Homo sapiens: one gene and its partners. The protein of the gene in region 2 purifies or fractionates together with the protein of the main gene of each other region. This does not show direct contact. Each region holds a gene or a part of one and is shown on either strand. Other genes may lie near its edges.

Region 1 (3,652 bases), on a different chromosome or scaffold from region 2:
TGGGAAGAATATTTTCTTGCTTCATTGTTAAGTTATTTGGTAGTGGAAAAAATGTGATAATTGTGGTAAAAATGATTGCTTGCACTGTACAAAATGACAGTGTCAAAACACAGCAATTACTGTTTCTAACAATCATAACTTGGTGAGGTGGCAGCAAATATTATTAAAAAGCTTTTAACTCTATTAGATTCTATGTACAATACCAAGAAGTATAATATCACTGCTCAGATTACATAATAGCAGAGATATATTAATAAATGGAACCTACAGCCATTTTAGAAAATGGCTGAAACAAAATGTCCTAGACTAGAGTAAAACCATGACAACGTATAAACACATCTCCACTGATAAAAAAATTTTCCACCTGACACAGCACTTTCAGCTTCCTGATATAGCTGTGTTTTTTTAAATATTAAAACTTCATACAAACCAATGCCAAAATTAACATAACTAACAGATTTTAACTTGAGATATCGGTTTCTTTTTTAGACTAGGAAATTTCACAAAAATTCATGTCAAAAAAAATTGATACATGCAGCAAAGGTTCTAAAAAGATGTGGAAACAGATGCTGGTGAGGCTGTGGAGAAGTAGGAACGCTTTTACACTGTTGGTAGGAGTGTAAATTAGTTCAACCATTGTGCAAGACAGTGTGGCGATTCCTCAAGGATCTAGAACCAGAAATACCATTTGACCCAGCAATCCCATTACTGGGTATATACCCAAAAGAATATAAATCATTCTACTATAAAGACACATGCACACATATGTTTACTGCAGCACTACTTACAATAGCAAAGACATGGAACCAACCCAAATGCCCATTAATAATAAGACTTGATAAAGAAAATGTGGTAAATATACACCATGGAATACTATACAGCCATAAAAAGGAATGAGATCAGGCTGGGCACAGTGGCTCACACCTGTAATCCTAGCACTGCGGGAGGCCGAGGCAGGAGGATCACTAGAGGTCAGGAGTTCGAAACCACCCCAGCCAACACGGTGAAACTCTGTCTCTACTAAAAGTACAAAAAAAAAATTAGCCAGGCATGGTGGTGGGTGCCTGTAATCCCAGTCACTTGGGAGGCTGAGGCAGGAGAATCCCTTGAGCCCGGGAGGCGGAGGTTGAAGTGAGCCAAGATTGCACCACTGCACTCCAGCCTGGGCAACAGAGCAAGACTCCACCTCAAAAAATAAAAAAAGTCATGTCCTTTGCAGGGACATGGATGAAGCTGGAAGCCATCATCCTTAGCAAACTAACACAGGAACAGAAAACCAAGCACCGCATATTCTCACTTATAGGTGGGAGTTGAAGAATGAGAACACATGGACACAGGGAGGGGAACAACACACACCAGGCCACTCGGGGTAGTGGGGCGAGGGGAAGGAGAGCATTAAGGTTAAATAGCTAATGCACGTGGGGCTTAAAACCTAGATGATGGGTTGATAGGTGCAGCAAACCAACATGGCACACATACCTATGTAACAAGCCTATACGTTCTGCACTTGTATCCCACAACTTGAAGTGAAATAAAAATTTTTTAAAATGTTGAAAATAAGAACATCAAAGCTGAGTCAAGTATCTCAGACTGGGGAAGTTTTTCACATATTTGAACTGTAACTCTTAGAGAACCGAGGATCAAACAATCACTTTACCATCACCAGGGTCCATAGTATAGCATTAGTTTAAGATGAATTTTATACTTTTACAAAACTTTGCAACTTTTAATTTCCAAAAGTATTTTGCACATGTCTTTTTATTTTCACAACCTGGAAGGCTACCAAAGCAAGGAATATTTTTGTTCCGATAGTTGAGAACATTAAGATACAAAACAATCAACAAACTTGCTCACTGCTACAGTGAATACCAAAGGTGACATCTGGACTAGTTTAAGACTCTTTCCAATATACTAGATATGTGACAGAATCAACTTGAGTATGTCTTAAAAGCACAGCTGCCTGGGTCTACTAATCACAGCCTCTAGGGGTGAGGACACATGCATCCACACTTTTTTTAAAGCTCTCTAAGCAATTCTTACATCCACTGAAGTCTGAGAACCAATGCAACAGATCACAGTACCAAGTGCAGGGTTGGAACCCTATCCTAGCTCTATCTCAGCCAGCCCACAGAAAGTCTTCTGAAATTAATTGGCCACGGTGCACTTGGCTCCTTTGTTAACAGTCATTGGTGCCAATGGTGGTGAAAATATAGTGTGGTTTTTAAAGCCTCTAATCATAGCATGCCCAAGAATCCAAAACATGGGGTGATTACTCAATAAAATCAAACTTTTTCTCAGCGGGTTATCATGATCACAGCACTTAATGGCAAATCAAAGATAATGAGGAGGGGGGGAACCCCAAAGAATTTCACAACCTGACACATCCATTTTAGTAAAGGAAATTACTGACAAAATTAGGAATTTGAAAAAAAGTACAATGAGCTAGGTCTTTATGTAATAAGATGGGAGGTTCTCCAAGACACACTGCTGAGTTAAAAAAAAAAATCAAGTTGCAGACCAACACATACATATAAGACCGTTTATGATATAGAGACACACACAAATCAGTATTTTGTCTATGAGTGAACAAAAAAGCATATACAAAGGTCTAGAACTGCACTGTCCAGTACAATAGTGACTAGCCACATAGGGAATTTGAATTTAAATTACTTTAAATTAAATTAAATTAGAAGTTCAGTTCTCAGTTGCACTAGCCACACTTCAAGTACTCAATAGCCCCCTGCTGCTAGAAGCCACTGGACTGGACAGCACAGATACAGGACATTTCCATCATCACAGAAAGCTCTATTGGACAGCACTGGTCTAGAAAGATATAAACTCCTAAGGGTAGTGGCCTGGCTGGGGAATGGGGGTTTAGGCAAAGTTGGGAGTAGGAGACAGAACAGGGATTGAAGAACTTCTGCCTTATCTGTCAATTCTGCTTAAATTTCCTTTTAATTTTTTTAAAAGCACTTGTCATTGCTGTATAATTTAAAAATCATTAAAAACTCAAAAGGCATATCTTTATTAAAGATATACATAAATACACAGGAAGCCTGAAAAAAAATGTAAATATCCCACTAGAAGCTCTGCATTAATGTGTATGGAGTATTAAAAACATCCCAAGGTTGGCTGCGAGCGGTGGCTCATGCCTGTAATCTCAGCACTTTGGGAGGCTGAGGCGGGTGGACCACAAGGTCAGGAGATCGAGATCATCCTGGCTAACATGGTGAAACCCCGTCTCTACTAAAAATACAAAAAATTAGCTGGGCGGGAGGCTGAGGCAAGAGAATGGCGTGAACCCAGGAGGCGGAGCTTGCAGTGAGCCAAGATCGTGCCACTGCACTCCAACCTGGGTGACAGAGCGAGACTCTGTCTCAAAAAAAAAAAAAAAAAAACCAAAAAACAAAAAACAAAAACAAACAAAAAAATCTGAAGGTTTTGAAAAGAAATGTAAACAAAAAAGCCAGGCATACCTGATCTAACCAAAGAGGTTAGTGTTTGAGGAAAGATACCCTCTCAAAATGGATTAAGAGAATTCAAATGAAGAAAAAGGGGCAGCCTGCAAGTACAAACTAGAAATTAGATGGGCTAAAAGAAGTTATCTAAAGGTATATTTCATCAAGTTCTATAGAATTATAGAGGTATTGTG
Region 2 (3,374 bases):
CTACCTATTAGGTCCCACGTTAGGGCCCTGAGCACCACTTGTTCCCTGGCAGTGTGGTCTGGGTTCTTCAGGGAGCATCAGTTTGGCTGGGAGACCAAACTGTTATCTCTGGGCCTTGTTCCCTTTGTGACCAGTCTCAGAGCCGGGCATCAGGACACCAGCTCCTCCCACTTCTGGCTCGGCCTGACCATCCTCAAGCAGCTGCGGCCTCCAGACCGCTTCCCTCACCCCAAGCAGAGGGGCTGTGGGGCCTGGGCATGCTGGTGGCCCTCTGGAGGTGCTGGCTGCTGGGCCAGGAACGTGGGAGCTGGTGCAAGGGGATAGTTGGGGTTTCTCATTCTTAACCCTTGATTGAATCTCCCTTCTCTCTCTTTCCCTCTCCCTTCCAAACCCCAGGCTTGTTGCAGGGACGTGTCTGCAGCGCCTGGGGACCGGAGCTGTCCTTCCCCTGTGCGGGCGGGCACCGCCTCCTCCTGGGTGTGAGGAGGAGGGGCCTGGCCAAACGGTTCTGGGCATGTGAGGTGGGGCGGTGGGCGGGGGGTGCCGGGCATGTGCAGAGACCTGGTGATGCCGGGAGGGATACAGTACTGTTTGGAAAGTTCTTTTAAGAGTGAAAAGCCCCTTTGGGTTCTTCTTAGACATCTCGCCCTACCCCAGATGGGCAGAGCAGAGTTCATTTCCAATGCCTCTTTTGTGTAGTGCCAAGCTCCTGTCCCCCAGGAGCTGACGGATGGCAAAAAGCTGTGGACACCCAGCTTTGCCTGGTCTTATTCTCTTCCCTCTCCCTCTCCAGATTGAGTTTGTGACGGGCACCAAAAAAGGCACCACGACCAACGCCACGTCCACCACCACTACCACTGCCAGCACAGCTGTTGCAGGTAGATTGCAGAGCTGCCCTGCCTCCTGCCACACACATGGAGCCAGGGTCTCCCTGGCTTGTTTGGGCGACAGACAGCACGTGGATCTGGGCCTGGGCTCAGCCTTGCTACTTTGAGAAGCACCTTTGGAGTCTGGGGTGGGCCACTTCGGGGTCTGCTCCCTAGACTCCCGCTGGCCTGCAGGGGGAAGGGAAAGAGGGCACCGCTCATTGGTGGATCGTGATCCTGATTTCTGCTTTATCTCCAGATGCTCAGAAGAGAAAGAGCAAGTGGGATTCGGCTATCCCAGTGACAACGATAGCCCAGCCCACCATCCTCACCACCACAGCCACCCTGCCAGCTGTTGTCACGGTCACCACCAGCGCCAGCGGCTCCAAGACCACCGTCATCTCTGCTGTGGGCACCATTGTGAAGAAGGCCAAGCAGTGACCTGAGGGGCCACCCTAGGACTTGAAAGGACCGTGCAGCCCAGTGACCACTGCCCAGTGGGAGGCGCCACTTTGTATATTTCAGGACTGGGACCTACTCCCCAGATGCCACCTGAGAGGAGCTTCTGTTTGGCATTCCAGATGGAAGGACAGGCAGCACGGGAGCCAGGCGCTGTGGACAGGGTCTGTCCACGCACCACCTGGGGTCTGCCGCCTATTAAAAGTGCCGTATTCTTACCTCTTGGCATCTCAGATGCACTGGCCTCTCCTGCATTCTGTTTGCAGGCAAATGCTTCAGCTCACATGTCCCCCAAGACTCAATAGTCTTGGTTGGGACTATTGCCTCAGGGTTGACAACAGGGTGATGGAGGCCTGGGACGCTGTTCAGAGGGGTGACCCAAGAAGTCACCGTTGTTATCCGTGTATGCCTCTGGGCATGGACAGGCGGGAGTCCCCGAGCCCCACGTATGCCCCATCTGCCGCCTTGATCCCAAAACCCAGCCAGTTCTCGGGTGATGGTGGAGCTGTGCTCCCTTGAGTGCACTTGAGCACTCCCCAGACCAGATCACTTTTTGGACACACCCAGGAAGGCTTTTGAAGTCAAGCCAGTTTCCAGAAGGGCTGGGGTGAGATCCTGACCTGTGCAGAGAGTGGGGAGGCGTCAGCGCCTGGCCAGGGCTGCCCCAGTCCTTTGGTGCCCGGTGAGCGCAGCCAGCAGGAGCTGAGCAGCGGGGGAGATGAATCACCTCCTGCCTTGGCGAGGCGGCAGCTCATTGTTTACAGGCAAGCCCTGCTCCTGGGAGGGCTCCTGCCACCCCACCCTTCCTCTGTGTGTTATCTCTGCCCCACAGCAGCCCCTGGGCAGCACCAGTGGCCACTGGGCTCCCCCCGGGGTTGAAACGGGTTTCCCAGACCAGGGGTTCAGAGGAGACTATTTACCCTTCATGATCTTTGGCGATTCTCCACTGGAGCGGAAGGGCTGTGTGTCAAAAGAAGGAAGCCAGGCTGTGAAGGGCCGTGTTGCTTTCAGTGGGTGGGCAGAGGTTTAGAAAGGTGGTTCTGAAATGGCACCTGGTACTCTTGTGGGACCTGGGGAATATAAGGAACTCTGTGCATGAGGTTTCAAAAATAAAAATTGAGTCCACTCTCCCCGTACACACACACTCGGGCACTTCAGGAGGTCAGTTCTCACCCCTTCCTCGATGGGGCTTTAAAGCTCTGGGGAGAAGAGCTGCTCCCCACTCATGCCCCAGAGGGACTGTGAAAAGGCTTCCTGTGACCTCCGATGGCGGCCCCTCATTGGCCAAGGGCACTGTGGATGTTTTGTGGGAGGCAGCATGGCACCGTGGAAAGGGCAGTAGACGTGGAGCCGGCACCTCTGGTCTGGATTCCACTTAAAACCAGTTGAGTGGTCTCAAGCCCTTAACCTCTGTAAGCCTGTTTCTTCTCTGAAATCACAGTAATAAAGCGTCGTAAGATGGTTGGGAAGAACCAGAGGTGACTTATGCAAAAGCTTTATAAACTGTAAAGTTCCTGCCAGTGTTTTTTGTTGGCTAAATCCAATTTTTTTTTGTTGTAGACCAAGGAGAGAAGCAAACTCCTGGCCTGTCCCCCGTCTCGTGCTCTGTCGGCGGGGTAGGGTTTGGCAGGTCTTTCCCCTCCCCGCTTTCCTCTGGGCAGCCCTGGCGCTGCCATTCATCTGTCCAGTTAAAGCAGTAATGACTGTCTCCTGCGGGGCCGCAGAGGTAGGGGGCCTGGAGAATGAACATAGGCTTAGAAGTTGGGCAACCCCAGGCCAAAACTGCTGCCCCACTTACCAGCCTCGTGAGTTGGGTCAAGGTTTTTAATCCTTCTAGACTTTCATTTACTCTTCTATAAAATGGTGCTTGCCCACCTTAGTCACATCAAGGATGGCCCAGAGGTGTGTGAACAGTTCCTGTTGTGGGTGGATGGCCCAGGCACTAGGGGCCAAAGTTGTTTCTAACCAGTGTGTGTCTGCTCGCCAGAGAACAGTGTCCAAACTGAACTCTGTCCACGGCTCCTACTGTCCCCCACCCACACACCTGCT
Region 3 (3,652 bases), on a different chromosome or scaffold from region 2:
TCTTAAGGTTACTTACTCATGTTTCTGTATTTTTCTGACTTTGTTGGGTCTTCTACAATCAGCAGCAGCCCATGAGGACTAGGAGGCTAGGCCACTTTGTTGGATCATATTGTCATATAAGTTGAGTATCCCTAATTCAGAAATCTGAAATGTTCCAAAATATGAAACTCTTTGAGCTCCATAAAATTCAAAGGAAATGCTCATTGGAGCATTTCAGATTTTGGATTTTCAGGTTAGGGATGCTGAATATAATACAGATATTCCAAAATCCAGGAAAAAACAAAAATGAAAATCCAAAACATTTTTGGTCCCAAGCATTTCAGATAAGGAATACTCAGCCTGTAGTGCATTCAAACCCAAATGAGAAATGGGTCCCAAAACTGTTTAACTTACGATTTTTTAATTGAAAATGTAAAAACAATAAATCTGTCTTTGAACATTCTAGTAAGGAAAATACTGGATTTTAAGTATAACTGTTAACGCTGTAATGTTTGGAATTCTTAATTTTTTTACTCTTGATTCTTTTTTTTTTTTTTCTCCTAGGTTTCTCAGTTTGGGTGCAGATCATTTGCTTTGCTTTTTGATGATATAGACCATAATATGTGTGCAGCAGACAAAGAGGTATTCAGTTCTTTTGCTCATGCCCAAGTCTCCATCACAAATGAAATCTATCAGTACCTAGGAGAGCCAGAAACTTTCCTCTTCTGTCCCACAGGTATTGTATATAATGGCTTTACATTTAACTAGTCTTCTTGGAATATATAACTTATAAAGGACCATGGGCCCCATTCTCTCTCCACTTCCCTCCTCCTTTGGTGTGTAAAAGTAGGAATCTTTTTTTAGAAGACATTTTTCAAGATCCTAAATTGGAGAAATTTTAGGAACTAATAAATGACAACTGACTAGGCAAAAGATTTTTATGTATTTTTAAGTACTGGAAGTATATGAACATTACATTGTCAATATTAAAAGAGGGATAGTATTGAAATGAAAACTGGAGAAAAACCAAATTACATTGCTTTTACCTTAGTCACTTCTCATTTCCTCCTACTTGTCCCCTTTTTCTGCCCATGCATATCTGTCCCTTTTTGCACTCCTCCCACTCCCATCTGGGCTCTTATTTCAAGTAGTCAGCATAGAAAGCTTAACAGTTTTTCCCGTTTTCCTTTCTTTTTGCCCCTCTGGTTTCTTTCATTGAAAATATTTTAGTCTCTTAGTTGCTTCTCAAAATTCAACTTACAGGAAGTTTTCCCCACACTTCCTTGTTCAGGAAGAATTTTAGATTAAATTATTTAACTTTCTTTGTGTGTATTGTGAGCCGAGAACCTTATTTTAGTTGAGTACTACATTAGTACCCAGAAGTTTTAAGATTATACTGGGAATTAATTAGCTGCAAGTTACAGTTTAAGTTGCAGTTGAGTACTAATAGCCATTGGTATATGCCTTTAAAAAAATTTTTTTTAAATTTTACTTTTAAGTTTGTATTATTTATTTAGAGACCGGGCTATAAAACTGGCTAATTTTTATATTTTTGGTAGAGACGGGGTTTCGCCATATTGCCCAGGCTAGTGTCGAACTCTTGGGCTCAAGTGATCCACCCGCTTCAGCCTCCCAAAATGCTGGGATTGCAGGTGTGAGCCACTGTGCCCAGCTGCCATTGGCATATTCTTGTATTAGTTCTATTATGATATTATCAATTCATTCTGTTTGGCGTTTAATTGTAACTGAGAAAAGTAGGCAATTCAGAATTCTGTAGAAAATGCTGCAGTTCTTGTTTTTTTAGTAAACTTGTATTTCTAGTAACTGTAGTATCGTAAGAATTGATCTGTACTACTGTTGGAGGAAAAATACCAGATTTTATGAATTTCTTAAATGAACTGCCCACTTTAGTTCCTTGTAGGAGGCCTTTTATCATTTAGATGAAAATAATTTAGAATTGGCAGACATTTTTTCCACATTCAAAAACCCATGGGCCTTTTGGGAGGCCAAGGCGGGCGGATTGCCTGAGCTCAGGAGTTTGCGACCAACCTGGGCAGCATGGTGAAACCCCATCTCTACTAAAATACAAAAAAAAATTAGCCGGGCGTGGCGGCGTGCGCCTGTAGTCCCAGCTGCTTGGGAGGCTGAGGCAGGAGAATTGCTTGAGCCCAGGAGGCAGAGGTTGCAGTGAGCCGAGATCGTGCCACTGCACTCTAGCCTGGGCATCAAGAGTGAGACTCCGTCTCAAAGAAAACAAACAAACAAAGAGAAAACCCATGAGCATTTTAATTCTGACTTTTTTACTTTTCTCCCTACATTTAGAATACTGTGGCACTTTCTGTTATCCAAATGTGTCTCAGTCTCCATATTTAAGGACTGTGGGTGAAAAGCTTCTACCTGGAATTGAAGTGCTTTGGACAGGTAAGTCTTTTAAGATTTATACAGTCAAAGTTGAATTAAGTAGGACTTGCAGAAATTGCTTGTTCTTGTTAATTGAATACTTTTTTTTTTGAGACGGAGTCTCACTCTGTCGCCCAGGATGGAGTCCAGTGGCATGATCTCGGCTCACTGCACGCTCCGCCTCCCAGGTTCACACCATTCTCCTGCCTCAGCCTCCCGAGTAGCTGGGACTACAGGCACCCGCCACCACGCCTGGCTAATTTTTTGTATTTTTAGTAGAGACAGGGTTTCACCATGTTAGCCAGGATGGTCTCGATCTCCTGACCTCGTGATCCACCCGCCTTGGCCTCCCAAAGTGCTGGGATTACAGGCGTGAGCCACCACGCCTGGCCTTTTTTTTTTTTTTTTTTGAGACAGAGCATTGCTCTTGTTGCCCAGGCTGGAGTGCAGTGGCACAATCTCAGCTCCCTGCAAACTCTGCCTCCCGGGTTCAAGCAATTCTCCTGACTCAGCCTCCCAAGTAGCTGGGATTACAGGCACACGCCACCACACCCAGCTAATTTTTGTATTTCTAGTAGAGACGGGGTTTCTCCATGTTAGCCAGGCTGGTCTCAAACTCCCGACCTCAGGTGATCTGCCCACTTCGGCCTCCCAAAGTGCTGGGATTACACATGTGACCCACTGCACCTGGCCCAGAGAACTTGTTAAAATACGCTTTCTTTTACAAAGTTTACATATTCTCTTAATATGAAAAAACATCTATCATGGTTGGGGAGCCTGAGTGGGGAGCCTGAGGTGGAAGCCCCCAGGAGTTCAAGACCAGCTTAGACAACATAGAGAGACTGTAGAAAAAATAAAAAACTTAGCCAGGTGGGCTGGTGCACACCTGTAGTCCCAGCTACTTAGGGGGCTGAGGTGGAAGGATCACTTGAGCCCGGGAGGTAGAGGCTGCAGTGAGCTGTGATCATGCCACTGCACTCCAGCCTGAGCAACAGAATGAGACCCTGTCTCAAAAAAAATTCAGTTAATAAATAATAAAGATTTATAGGGAATTGGGCTAAAAGGTATTGATCCCATCCTTAAGCAGCGTTAGGAAACTCTTCTATTTTATAAAACGAAAAAAATAAAGCTCAGTAAAAGACATGTTGTGTTTTCAAAAGAAAAATTGTGGCTGGGTGCATTGGTTCGTGCCTGTAATCCCAGTGCTGTGGGAGGCTTGAGTTGAGGTAGGAGGATCGCTTGAGGCCAGGAGTTTAAGATTAGCCTGGGCAAC

Evidence for each region.
Region 1: the proteins of SAP30BP (region 2) and OCRL purify together in Homo sapiens (co-immunoprecipitation; one large-scale study listed by IntAct). This does not show direct contact.
Region 3: the proteins of SAP30BP (region 2) and OGA purify together in Homo sapiens (affinity purification with mass spectrometry; one large-scale study listed by BioGRID and IntAct). This does not show direct contact.

Annotation. Positions count from the first base shown.
Region 1 is NC_000023.11:129,571,110-129,574,761, reverse strand, and holds part of OCRL (inositol polyphosphate 5-phosphatase OCRL), read right to left. Parts: intron 1-3,652. UniProt on the Homo sapiens protein: Catalyzes the hydrolysis of the 5-position phosphate of phosphatidylinositol 4,5-bisphosphate (PtdIns(4,5)P2) and phosphatidylinositol-3,4,5-bisphosphate (PtdIns(3,4,5)P3), with the greatest catalytic activity towards PtdIns(4,5)P2.
Region 2 is NC_000017.11:75,705,215-75,708,588, forward strand, and holds the end of SAP30BP (SAP30-binding protein), read left to right. Parts: intron 1-396; coding exon of another isoform or gene 397-477; intron 478-793; coding exon 794-878; intron 879-1,125; coding exon 1,126-1,307; 3' UTR 1,308-2,845; downstream 2,846-3,374. UniProt on the Homo sapiens protein: Plays a role in transcriptional repression by promoting histone deacetylase activity, leading to deacetylation of histone H3.
Region 3 is NC_000010.11:101,804,793-101,808,444, reverse strand, and holds part of OGA (protein O-GlcNAcase), read left to right. Parts: intron 1-543; coding exon 544-715; intron 716-2,301; coding exon 2,302-2,400; intron 2,401-3,652.